2 separate regions of the Homo sapiens genome follow, and region 2 is linked to region 1. Evidence: fine-mapped expression QTL. A gene starts in region 1. The other region holds a variant in brackets. All regions are shown on one strand. Distances are from middle to middle.

The links. PIP is the estimated chance that this variant, and not a neighbour inherited with it, causes the effect.
Region 2: its variant is fine-mapped to the expression of INHBA in tibial nerve (GTEx, PIP above 0.99). The same link has a PIP of 0.9 or more in pancreas and testis.

The regions. Positions count from the first base shown.
Region 1 is chr7:41,700,618-41,705,998 of GRCh38, reverse strand. It overlaps INHBA (inhibin subunit beta A), which reads left to right and starts at 2,909. Exons shown (of 3, transcript NM_002192.4): 1 at 2,909-2,994. The region is part of intron 1 of INHBA-AS1 (INHBA antisense RNA 1); the gene reads right to left. RefSeq lists an enhancer at 779-868.
Region 2 is chr7:40,828,442-40,833,822 of GRCh38, reverse strand. The region is part of intron 13 of SUGCT (succinyl-CoA:glutarate-CoA transferase); the gene reads right to left. It overlaps LOC112267984 (a long non-coding RNA gene), which reads left to right and starts at 3,731. Exons shown (of 2, transcript XR_007060292.1): 1 at 3,731-5,075. The variant T/C (reference allele first, on the strand shown) is at 2,487.

The DNA of each region.
Region 1 (5,381 bases):
GAGTTAGCAGCAGCAAGACAGGCCCTAATTGCTCCATTTACATAAAAGTAGAAACATACAACTTCTAAATATAAATCTCTGGCACATCGTTCCTTTTGCAATTACAGTAAAATAAGGTACCACAGTTTCCCTCCCGGCTCCTTCTCGCAGCAAGCTGCTCCACCGGGTTCGCTAGTGGCTGCTCCTCGAGGCGAGAACAGAGCCATGCAAATGCTCCAGCGTGGAGTTGGGTTTGTGAAGTCGCCAGTAAATCAGGCCGCCTCCACTAGGTGAATAACGCGGTGGCAGCGGGCCACTTTGCTAGTGCAGTCGCTGGAGGACCGCGCTCCGCACTCAGAAGGGGGCAGTTGGCTGGTGCGCGAGCGCTCCCGGCTCGCCTCTGTCCGCGGGGAGCCAGCCGGCCCCTCCGCAGGTCCCGCTCCCTGACATTTGCTGTGGTTTCACTCCCTGGCACTGAGGGCTGGGTTCAGAGATTCCCAGCTGCACTCACTGAACAGTGATTTTTTTCCCCTCCCTGAATTCTTTAGCTGCCAAAAGGGGGGAAAAAATCAAGAGCTGCTCTTAAAAGAAGTTGCCCTTGCTGGTGCTCAGGGTAAAAATAGAGGCTGCCGCTTAGACCGGCTTGGCCCTGGCTCCAGGCATCCTGCGAGCTGGGCTCGAGCAGCGGCCGCGTTCCGGCGTGATCCCTGGAAGCTGCCAGCAGGTGCTGCTCAAGGTACAGTAGCAGGGCCGAGAAGCCGGGACCCGAAGGGCCTGGGGTGCGGGGAAGCTCCGGGGGAGGGGGAAGTGAAAGAGAAACCAAACCAAGGAAGGAGAAGGAGATTCTGGTCAGGACTGGGCTGACCAGCTTGTGCCCCGGGCCCTTGAGTTCCGCAGGGAAAAGCTGATTCCCAGTCTAGAATATTCCACAGAAGCTATTTTAACCTGCCTGCTTCCTCCACCACCCCCACCTTGATTTGCACCGAGGGAGGAGGCATTGCCACTGTGGTGCAGGTGGTTGCAGAGGGGTTGCAGCACGGCTGGTAGGCTGGCCTGGCAGGTGGGCACTCGGTGGCATCAGATGGCCAGCGGAGTTTCAGAGTCACACTTGTGTTGTGGCTCCTCTGGTCAGAGAGCTGCAGATTCCTGTGACACCCATGTTTAAGAACAGCCACCAGGCTTCTCAGAAATAGTATCACTTATTATTATCTGACAGCTGCACTTGACCCCCACAGGTTCATATCATGGATCCCATTTTATAGATGGGAACACTGAGGCCTGAGTTTACACGGTGAGTGAGCAGAGGAACTGGGATCTGATCTGGGTTTGTTTTGTGCCCCCCACCCCCACCCCACGTCACCTACACACACACACACACACACACACACACACACACACACACACACACTACTTTGTGTGGAGGCGGAGGGGATGTTTTCAGGACACTAGGGTTCATGTGTGGGTCAGGGGTGAGTTTAGATGCCCTGAAGGTCATTGACTCCACTAATTCTCAGCAAAAAGGGTGGAGAAGTTTCTTTCTTATAAAGGGTTTGAGTTCACCCAGTGCTAAGCTGAGGGGCAGGTTTGGAGTTCACCATCATTAATCCTATTTCTGTCTTCGCCACTCAGATTCACTCTCTTCCTCTACAACCTAATGATTTTTTTCCTACTTCATTTCTGCATATGCAGTTCTTAGAATACTCCTTCCCCCCACCCCCATGCAGCTCAGCACCCACACTTTCTCTGTATCTAGCCAAGAGAGACCCTTTTACACAGAAAACTTCTGGTGTCCTAATGGAACCTGCTTAAGCCACACATCAGGAGGCCAGAGCCTCTATATTTTGCTTGTGGGCACAGTGAAAAGTTTATTTTATGCATGTTAAATCCTGCATACAAAACAACATATCTGGTCATATGGCTCTCATTAGCTCCCAATTTTGCACATTTTATCCAACTTGTCATGAGAACTGGGCTTATGCTTCAACTGTAGTCCTTCAAACAACCCTTCACCGTTCTTGTCAGAGGACCCCTTCCTCCTGTGTTATTTACCAGACTTGCCAACACCCCTCCCCCACAAAAAAAGCCTGACCAGCTTTACCCCTATTTCAAGGAGTGTTCACTTCTTTTCATTAATCTGCTGTTATATTTGTAACAATTTAGAAATTATAGGAGTTGAAGTTCTGGTAAAAAAGAATGATGCATGAGGGTTTTTGTTGTTGTTGTTGTTGTGTGTGTGTGTGTGTGTGTGTGTGTTTGGTTAGTTAGAATGAGATTCTAAAGACCTGGGAAGGATACTTATGAAGTTCATTTAAAGAGAATTACTATTTCCAAAGTTCTTGATTTATGAAGCAGGCATTCAATTTCAAGATGTAAAATAATAGTGTAAGTTGGTTGGGGTCGGGGGAGACCATCATCATATGATTATACAGATTTTCCCAATTTTTTTCCTCAATGAAATAGCTTATTTTAAAAATATAAAATTAGAATCCCTATAAAGAACACTACCAATTTTCTTTCCTGAAAGAAACAATAAAATACTTTGTAAATAGAAGCAACTTCATGAAGTAACAGATGTTTTATGTAAAGACATAAAACTGAACCTGAATATAACGAGACGTGTGTGCGAGTAGTAAAAGTTGAAAGTTGGACACACTCATTGAGACATATCTATTTGATTCCAATGTTTTTCTAAAAGGTAGAGTAATCCTAGCCAGAGGTTTCACTGGCTCAGTGCATCACCCAGTAGTGTCTCAGAAGCCAGGAAGGGCTTTCCATTAGATAATGAATTATGAAATGTCTCACACTGGAAAAACCAGTCATCCGCTGATGTCATGCTGATTCCAACCAATCCCAAACAAAGCCCCAGCCCTCCTCTGTTTCAGTGGTACCAATGTGTGGTGTACAAATAAGTAGTACAGTATAAAACTTCACAGTGCCAATACCATGAAGAGGAGCTCAGACAGCTCTTACCACATGATACAAGAGCCGGCTGGTGGAAGAGTGGGGACCAGAAAGGTAATGCTTTTTAACTCTTACTTCTGAGCTCTTTACACATTCAAAGATAGGAAAGCTAGGAGGAATTTTACAACTAATTGGCATTTCCAATGTGCATTGTGATGTGTACCTTTTTATATTATTCAGGCAGGTTAATACAGCTTTTAATAGTCCTAGAGCATGCAAATAGATTATATGTTTATACAAGCCACTCAGCACATATATACAAGTACATATGCCAAAGAGAAAGCTATTTTTAAGAGTTACATTCGCAAACAGTAAATTCAGGGAACACACACATACTCAGATGCAGAGAGAATCCAAATATTGATAAGTTGCACTTATCTAAATGCTGCTATTAGGACTCCTGAGTTGTTTAGAGCCATTAAACTTTTGGTTGTATTTCAGACTTTCTTGTAAAACTTAATTGAACTGCAAAACATTTTGGGTACTGTATATGTGACTCCAAATAGGTGGATGATGTTAAGTATTATAGCACAAAGATTTTTTATAAAACCATTGTAACACAAATGTCCCCTGCCTCCCCCATTCTCTTTCACCATCCCCGTAAAAAATATGAGGCTTTTTAGGCAATGTTGACAAAGTTTTAACAATAATGGTGGAGTAATTGATGTTTCTGGAGCTGAAACCCCAAAGGTGTTAGGTTACTTGTAACAGAAAAAGTCTTACAAATAGTTGTTTTGGAAAAGGGGACAGTATATATAATTCAGAAAGCATTGTTAACCTGTGCAAACTGTAATTATAACTTAGTGTCACAATTTTCTTGCCCTCTTCCCCTTGCACTCAGATCTTATCTTGTAGTAATGATATTTATTAACTCTTTCCACCTAAACTGCATTGCTTGACTGTAATGCTATGAACACACTAGGTGTCAGATATAAGCTGAGTGTATCTTCAGAAACCAAGAGGGCTTATGTGTGGGAAAGAAACCGAGAGGGAAGGAACGCTTTAACAGATGGACCCCTTAAAGATTCTTCTGCAAGATAAAAGCAATAAGACAGAAAATGAAAAAGAGGGGAGGGGGAAGAATTTTTTTTAAGCCTTAGAAAGGCATTGTTAAAAAATTCACATTTTTCTTTTTCTGTGCACACTAAAATCCATGATGATTTCATCTGCACTGTTCCTTTGAGGGAAAAAGAAGCAGTCAAGGAGGCTGTCTATGAATGCACTGGTCGGGACAGGCTTGGGGCAAGCTGAAAAAACTACCACATGACAGAGAAAAATAATTTGCCAATATATTTTAGAGAGTCTTTTCCCATAGGACCAGTTATTCAAGTCATACGAGTGCACTCTTTTTATAAAAGGATGTGGGAAAGGCCAAGAGAATTTTGCATTTTATCTGTGAAGTCCGGCGAGTGGTGGTAGGCTGTAATGTGTGAGAGTGAGTGGGTCCCCGGCAGAAGGGGGCAGCTGAACGCGACGGGGAGAAAGCGCTTCTGGAACTTGGGCTTGTGACAGGCTGCCTGCCCTCTGGTCCTTCAGTGCCCTGCTGCATTTCACAGTTGGGAAGAGTGGAGTGTATTATATGACCCCAAACAAAAGTTCCATTGCGCTCTCCTCAGATTGCCTGCCAGTGTTGATGACCTGAACATTTAAATATGAATGAATTGGGGGAAAGGACCATCTCCCCTGGATCCCATCAGGCCAGAACAATCCTCTGTTACCCCTGAGTCCCTCTTCCCTGACCTCCACTACCTGTCCACTGGACCTCCCTGCACCCTCTGCCCCACCACGTGGCCAGGTGGGCGTTCTACCACCTAGGGCTGTGGCTTGGCTGGGTGGAGGGGCGGTGGGAACACTTTTTCAATCAATTCATCCCTATTGATTGAGACACTGTGTTTGTTTGGGGTTTCTTTTCTCCCCTCCAAAAAAGGAAGAAGGTGAAACCAGGAGACTGGGCAGAGAAAGAAAAAAAAATAGTGAACAAAATTAGGATAATTTATTTTAGAAGAGAAAGTAGAACCCCCGAAAATGGTGATATTTGAAGAGAGGTGTCTGTGAGGAAGCTAAGAGCAGAAGGAGAGCAGCCTGTCAGAAAACGGGCTGTCCCTCCCTCCCTAATCACAGCCCTACTCACAGCAAACTCCCTCCCTCTCCATTCACTCACTTACTTAGGGCCAATCCTTTCTCTCTCTCTCTCTCTCTCTCTCTCTCTCTCTCTCTTCCTTTCCCTCTCTCCCTCTCCCCCTCCCTTCCCTCCCTCTCTCCCTCTCTCTCCCCCTTCTTTCCCTCTCTCTTCTCTCCCCCTCTCTCCTCTCTCTCTGTCTCTGTCTCCCTCCCATCCTCTCTCTCTGTCTCTGTCTGTCTCCCCGCCACCCTGTCTCTCCCTCCCTCCCTGTCTCCCTCCCTCCCTCCCTCCTTCCTTCTCTCTTACTCGGAGACAGTCA
Region 2 (5,381 bases), 870 kb after region 1:
CTCTTTGAACTTGCTGTGGGAGAGGAGAACTCTCTGTTCTAAATGCTGCCTTCACCACTGTCCAGCTGGGATGTTTTAGAACCAAGTCTCTCACTGACTCATTCAGTCCAGAAACAAATAGAGGAAAATTTGCAGCACCTGATCCCAAAGCAGGTGGCTATGCATTAATGATGTAGCACGTGCCAAGATCCTGAAAGGAATGGTTCTAGAGAAATATTGCAGGACCTAATTATTTTTAATGTCTCTCCTAACTTGAAAGTGGTTTGTGTACATGACTTCAATTTTCAAAAGATACAATGCAGCCTGGGACTTTAAAACAGGGAATCTGGCAAATTAACTAATAAGTGTATGAACACATGTTGAAATGGCAAGGCACTAAATAGGCTGGCTTCTCCTACAGAAAAGAGTCATTTAACAGGAGTCAGTTAAGTCAATGTTTACTTTCCACGTAAGGAACTTTACATCACAAATGGGAGAAATAATTCAGCAGGTAGAAAAAAAGGGAAAAAACTTTCCAAGCAGGGAAACTTCCTTGGGTTGTTAATGTTTCTTGTTAAGATGGGTCTTGGAAAACAACCCATCTCAGATCAACATTCCTACATGTGGAGTTTGGATTCTTTTTTTCTTCCAGTAATCTTCAACTACAATGGGATCTATCTGACTATTATTGCAATGTTTAAAAACAGTACTGATCAGATTCCTTTCCAGTGGGACAACCAAGAAAAAATGGACTGCTGAAAAAAAAAATCTAGAGGTAAAATATGCAGACCTGTCAAGGGATGATGGCCCGAGCAGAGGTCTATGGACCGAGGGGATGGCAGCATGCAGAATAGAAGTAGGAGTGGAAGAGGCCCGGCACAGTGACTCACGCCTGTAATCCCAGCACTTTGGGAGGCTGAGGCAGGCTGGTCACAAGGTCAGGAGATCGAGACCATCCTGGTTAACATGGTGACACCCCGTCTCTACTAAAAACACAAAAAATTAGCCGGGCATAGTAGCGGGTGCCTGTAGTCCCAGCTACTTGGGAGGGTGAGGCAAGAGAATGGCGTGAACCTGGGAGGCGGAGCTTGCAGTGAGCCAAGATTGGGCCACTGCACTCCAGCCTGGGTGACAGAGTGAGACTCTGTCTCAAAAAAAAAAAAAAAGTAGGAGTGGAAGAAACAAAGAAGGCCTGAAGCAATAGGTATATCTGGCCTGAAATCTTCCTCTCTAGCTAATTCTTTGTGGCTAGGAGTGCTCACATCCGGGAAAAAAAAAAAACAAAAAAAACCCTGGAAAACAAAAAACCAACCAAACAGAAAACCCAGAGTGGATGTATGAACCATTATAGCTATCCTTCTCTTAACTGTTTGGTGCAGAACACTAAAAAATATAAAGTTTGGGAGAACATGTGTCCTATTACGTAATTCTTGGTATAATATTAATACTACCACAACATTAAATGGGACACAGTGTTTTCACAACAATATGATATTAGATGATACTCACAATGACCCTGTAGGATGGAGGATAATTATTTTTCCCACTTAACATTAAAGGAAAATAAGGCCCTGAGAGGTTTCATGTTGCCTAGAATCCCCCAAATAAGGAAGCGGAGCAAGAACCAGAACTGTTGGATGCCTGCTCTGGGTTACTTTTCAGGACTCTGTGTCACCACCTATCTCATGAGTGCTCTCCAGAGATACCCGGACGCACACAGGGACAGCCACACATTTGCATGCACGGCCCCTTGTGAATGGAGACAGGCTCCATACTGCTCACTTTCTTTCATTCCCCTGCACACTTAAGTTACTGTACCACAACACCCAAGACCCCCCAACATGTGCTGTTGCCCTGAAACTGGAGTTACTACTATATAAGTGTTCTAAACATAGGCTATTGTCCTGCCAGAAGACTCCTCCTCTGGGAGTCCCTGGAGCCCCCTCTAGGCTGTCCTGCCAGTGTGTGAGCCTGTACTCTCTTCCTCCTTAATATGCCTGGTAGCCTTCATCACACTACAGGCCTATAGCCAGCCCTGCTGAATTCAGGCTGGGGTTGGGGTGAATAGTAAGAAGAGTATCACACAGAGATAGGATCTAGAGGTGTAACATGTAAACAGAAGTGTTCTTAGTGTTCACAGTCGGAACTCAAGGTTATATTTTCCCACAGAATCCATGTGACTGATGCTGACTTGCTAATGAGATTCAATAATTCTGGGAGTATTTAGTAGCATCTTGGTTAAACATCTGCATTATATAGGGCTTCAAGGATGACTGCAAGACCCTAACCATCATTGATAATATTGTTTCTATGGGGAAATGTGTTTGAAGTTTCGTATGACAGCCCTCCAAAGAAATTCTAGCAAACAAACCCATTTGAAAGTTGGGCACTGCCTGTCTTCCAGCACTGGCTGTTCTCCCTCTCACTCTCTCCAACCTAACCTGTTTTCTTATATCCAACTTCTGGGTGGCCCATGAAGGCTATTGCTCCTCTGAGGCCACAGCAGG[T/C]GTAAGCAATGAGGAGAAGGTGAAAGTGCTGGGGAACAGTCCCAGCAGTAGAGGGAGGGGGGCAGGAGAGGGAAGAAGACAGAGTTGGAATCATCACCAGACAGCAAACATTGGGTGAGCCTACACTGTTGATAGGACACAGGCTTTTTACGGGAATCTAAAATGCAACTTTTAGGCAGGATGAATGTCATTAAGAAAGCACAGGCCGTGGCATGAGGCAGGCCTGGGGTACATTCTGTTTCTTATTAAAAATGATGATCTTAAGCTAAATACTTAACCTCTTAGAAGGTTCAGCTTTCTCATCTCCAAAATTGAGACGACATTACTTCTCAGGGTGTTTGTGAAGATCAAATTGTGTAAATGTGATTATTACAATCTTCAGCAGCATTTACCAGACAGTTGAATGTTGCTTTTTCTTACTTTCCTCCTTTGAGAGATGCAAGGTGGTACAGGGGAAAGATTAGAGTAAAAATAAGTGGATTTGAATTCTAGTCTCAGAATCAACCCCATGGAGGGGCTGGGCACACTCTCCGAGTTACTGTCTTCTGTGCTGTCCTCTGAGGACTTTTGCTGGTAGCAATGAATCAACATATGTGTGAATGGCTGCAATGAGCTGGTCAATAATTATCATTCACTGTTTTGACAAATGTGTGTTGAGTGCCTACTATAGGCCTGGCGCCACCTTAGAAACATGAATCCAGCCAAGGAGAAATAATCAAGGCAGGCCTGTTCTGTTAGATGGAGTGATCAGGGAAGTTTCTCTGAATAGATGAGATTTGAGCAGAGACCTCAGTGAGGAGTGGGAGTGAGCCACAGAAATATCCAGAAAGAGGCATCTAAGAAGAGGGAATAATCAGAGTAAAGGCCAGGCTGTCAGGGTCTGCTAGGGCCTGATTGAGACATTGCAAGGAGGTCCTCAGGGGTCTTCATGACTAGTGCAGGGAGCAAAAAGTATGGGCACGGGGCATGGACAGGGGAGGGCAGGACCAATGGTCTGTTGATATGTGCTCTGCAAACCGCTGGAAGGACTTTCTCCTAACTTCTAGGTACTCAAGCCCTTGGAAGGTCTTGAGTGAAGGAGTTTACATTGTGAAAAGCCACATGGAGAAGAAACTGGTAGCCCAAGGGTGAAGGCAGGCAAGCACTGGGAGGTGACTGTGGTCAGCAGAGCAGACCTGAGATGAGGCTCTGGGCCTGGGGTGGTGGCAGTTGGGGACACAGATGTATTCTGACTCAATGTGTGTGTGGTGAAGTAGAGCCAATTGGGTGTGCTCATGACGTGGTGGTGGAATGTGGGAGAAAGAAGGAAGCAGAGAAAGAATCAAATTGTTGTCCTTTTTACTCTAAAGATGATGCTAGTTACTGCAATGGGAGAATACTGGGGGAGAAATGGTTTTTGAAGGAAAGTCAGCATTCTATTTTGGATTGAGTTTGCCACATGCTACATGAATTGAGTTTTCTATATGCTTTTGGTGTCTGTGTGGAAATGTGATGCAGGCCCTGGAGCTAGGGAAGGGTGCAGGCCTAGAGAGAGACACTGGGGAGGCCTCCACAGAGTGATATGGGTGAAAGCACAGGGCCGGACATGGTCATCTGTGGAGTAGGAATGGAGGAAAGGGAGGAGAACCCACCATGACACTGCACAGCATTTTAGAGGTCTGAGGAAGGAGATGCCACTCCATGCATGGAAAGTGACATGACAAAAGAGGCCCTTTCTTACAAAAATTCTTTGTGTCCTTTTTTTTGTTACTGCTTTTGTTTTTCTTTTTATTAAAATAATTATGAAATATTTCAAAACATGCTGAATACTGAAAATAAAATAACTGACACTCCACCCAGATTTCTAACTTGTGAACATTTTGCCACTTTGCAATTGATGGCAGGCAAATCCCAAAATTGGGGCTCAGCCCAGGAGGGTTCTTGACTTTGCTCAGGAAAGAACTGAAGAATGAGCTGGCAATGAAAGAAGGCAAGTTTATTAGAGCAACAGTGTATGGCAAAGTGGCTGCTCCCCAGAGCAGGGTTCTTTCATAGGCAGAGCTGCCCAGAGCAGCAGCAGCAGCAGCAGCAGCAGTCCTTATGGATTGCTGGCTAGCTATATTTATACACAGTCTTCGTTATATGCTATTTAAGGAGTAGGTTATTCAGAATTTTCTAGAAAAGGGGTGGGGGAGTTCCTGGAACCATATAAGGAAACTTCTGGGTTGTTGCCATGGCATTTGTAAACTGTCATGGCACTGGTGGGACTGTCTTTATGCTTATTAGCAGTGAGGGCAAGAGGGTCACTTTTGTTGCTATCCGCTGGTTTCGGCTGGTGTCTTTGCTGCATCCTGCTTTGATTAGTAGGGTCATGATCGGTGCTCGGAATATAAGTCCTGCTGGTCTCCCATCTCACTATATTCATTTCAAAGACAACTAAAGTCATGCCCCCAAACCGCTAAAGTCATGCGGTCCAAACCGCTTCTTTTTCCTTCTCCAGGAGGCTTTAGTGAGCAATGAGAACAGTGCCTGGTGTGTGGGAAGTTCTCAGTGAAGGTCAGGAACTGTGGCGCCGCTGGAGGTGGTCTTTACCATTATGATGATATTGAGGTCAGTCTTTCCCATGCATTTTCTAGCTCTTACTGCATAAAGGTATCTCCATAACAATGCACAGTACAATTTTGTATGTTTTTCAAATTAATGTAAAGGGTAAATTTTTGTATTCTTTTGTATCTTTTTTTAATTCAACATTGTGTTCTTGAGTTTTTTTTTTTTTTTTTTACTGTAGCAAGTCAGACACAGTTTAGAATATAACGGTAATAGGAGGAGGAAACAAAATCTTTGCAGAGAGAGCAACATGAAGGTGCTTTGGAAGCCCCAATATGCCAGCTCTCCAGATGCCTTTTCTCCATCCCC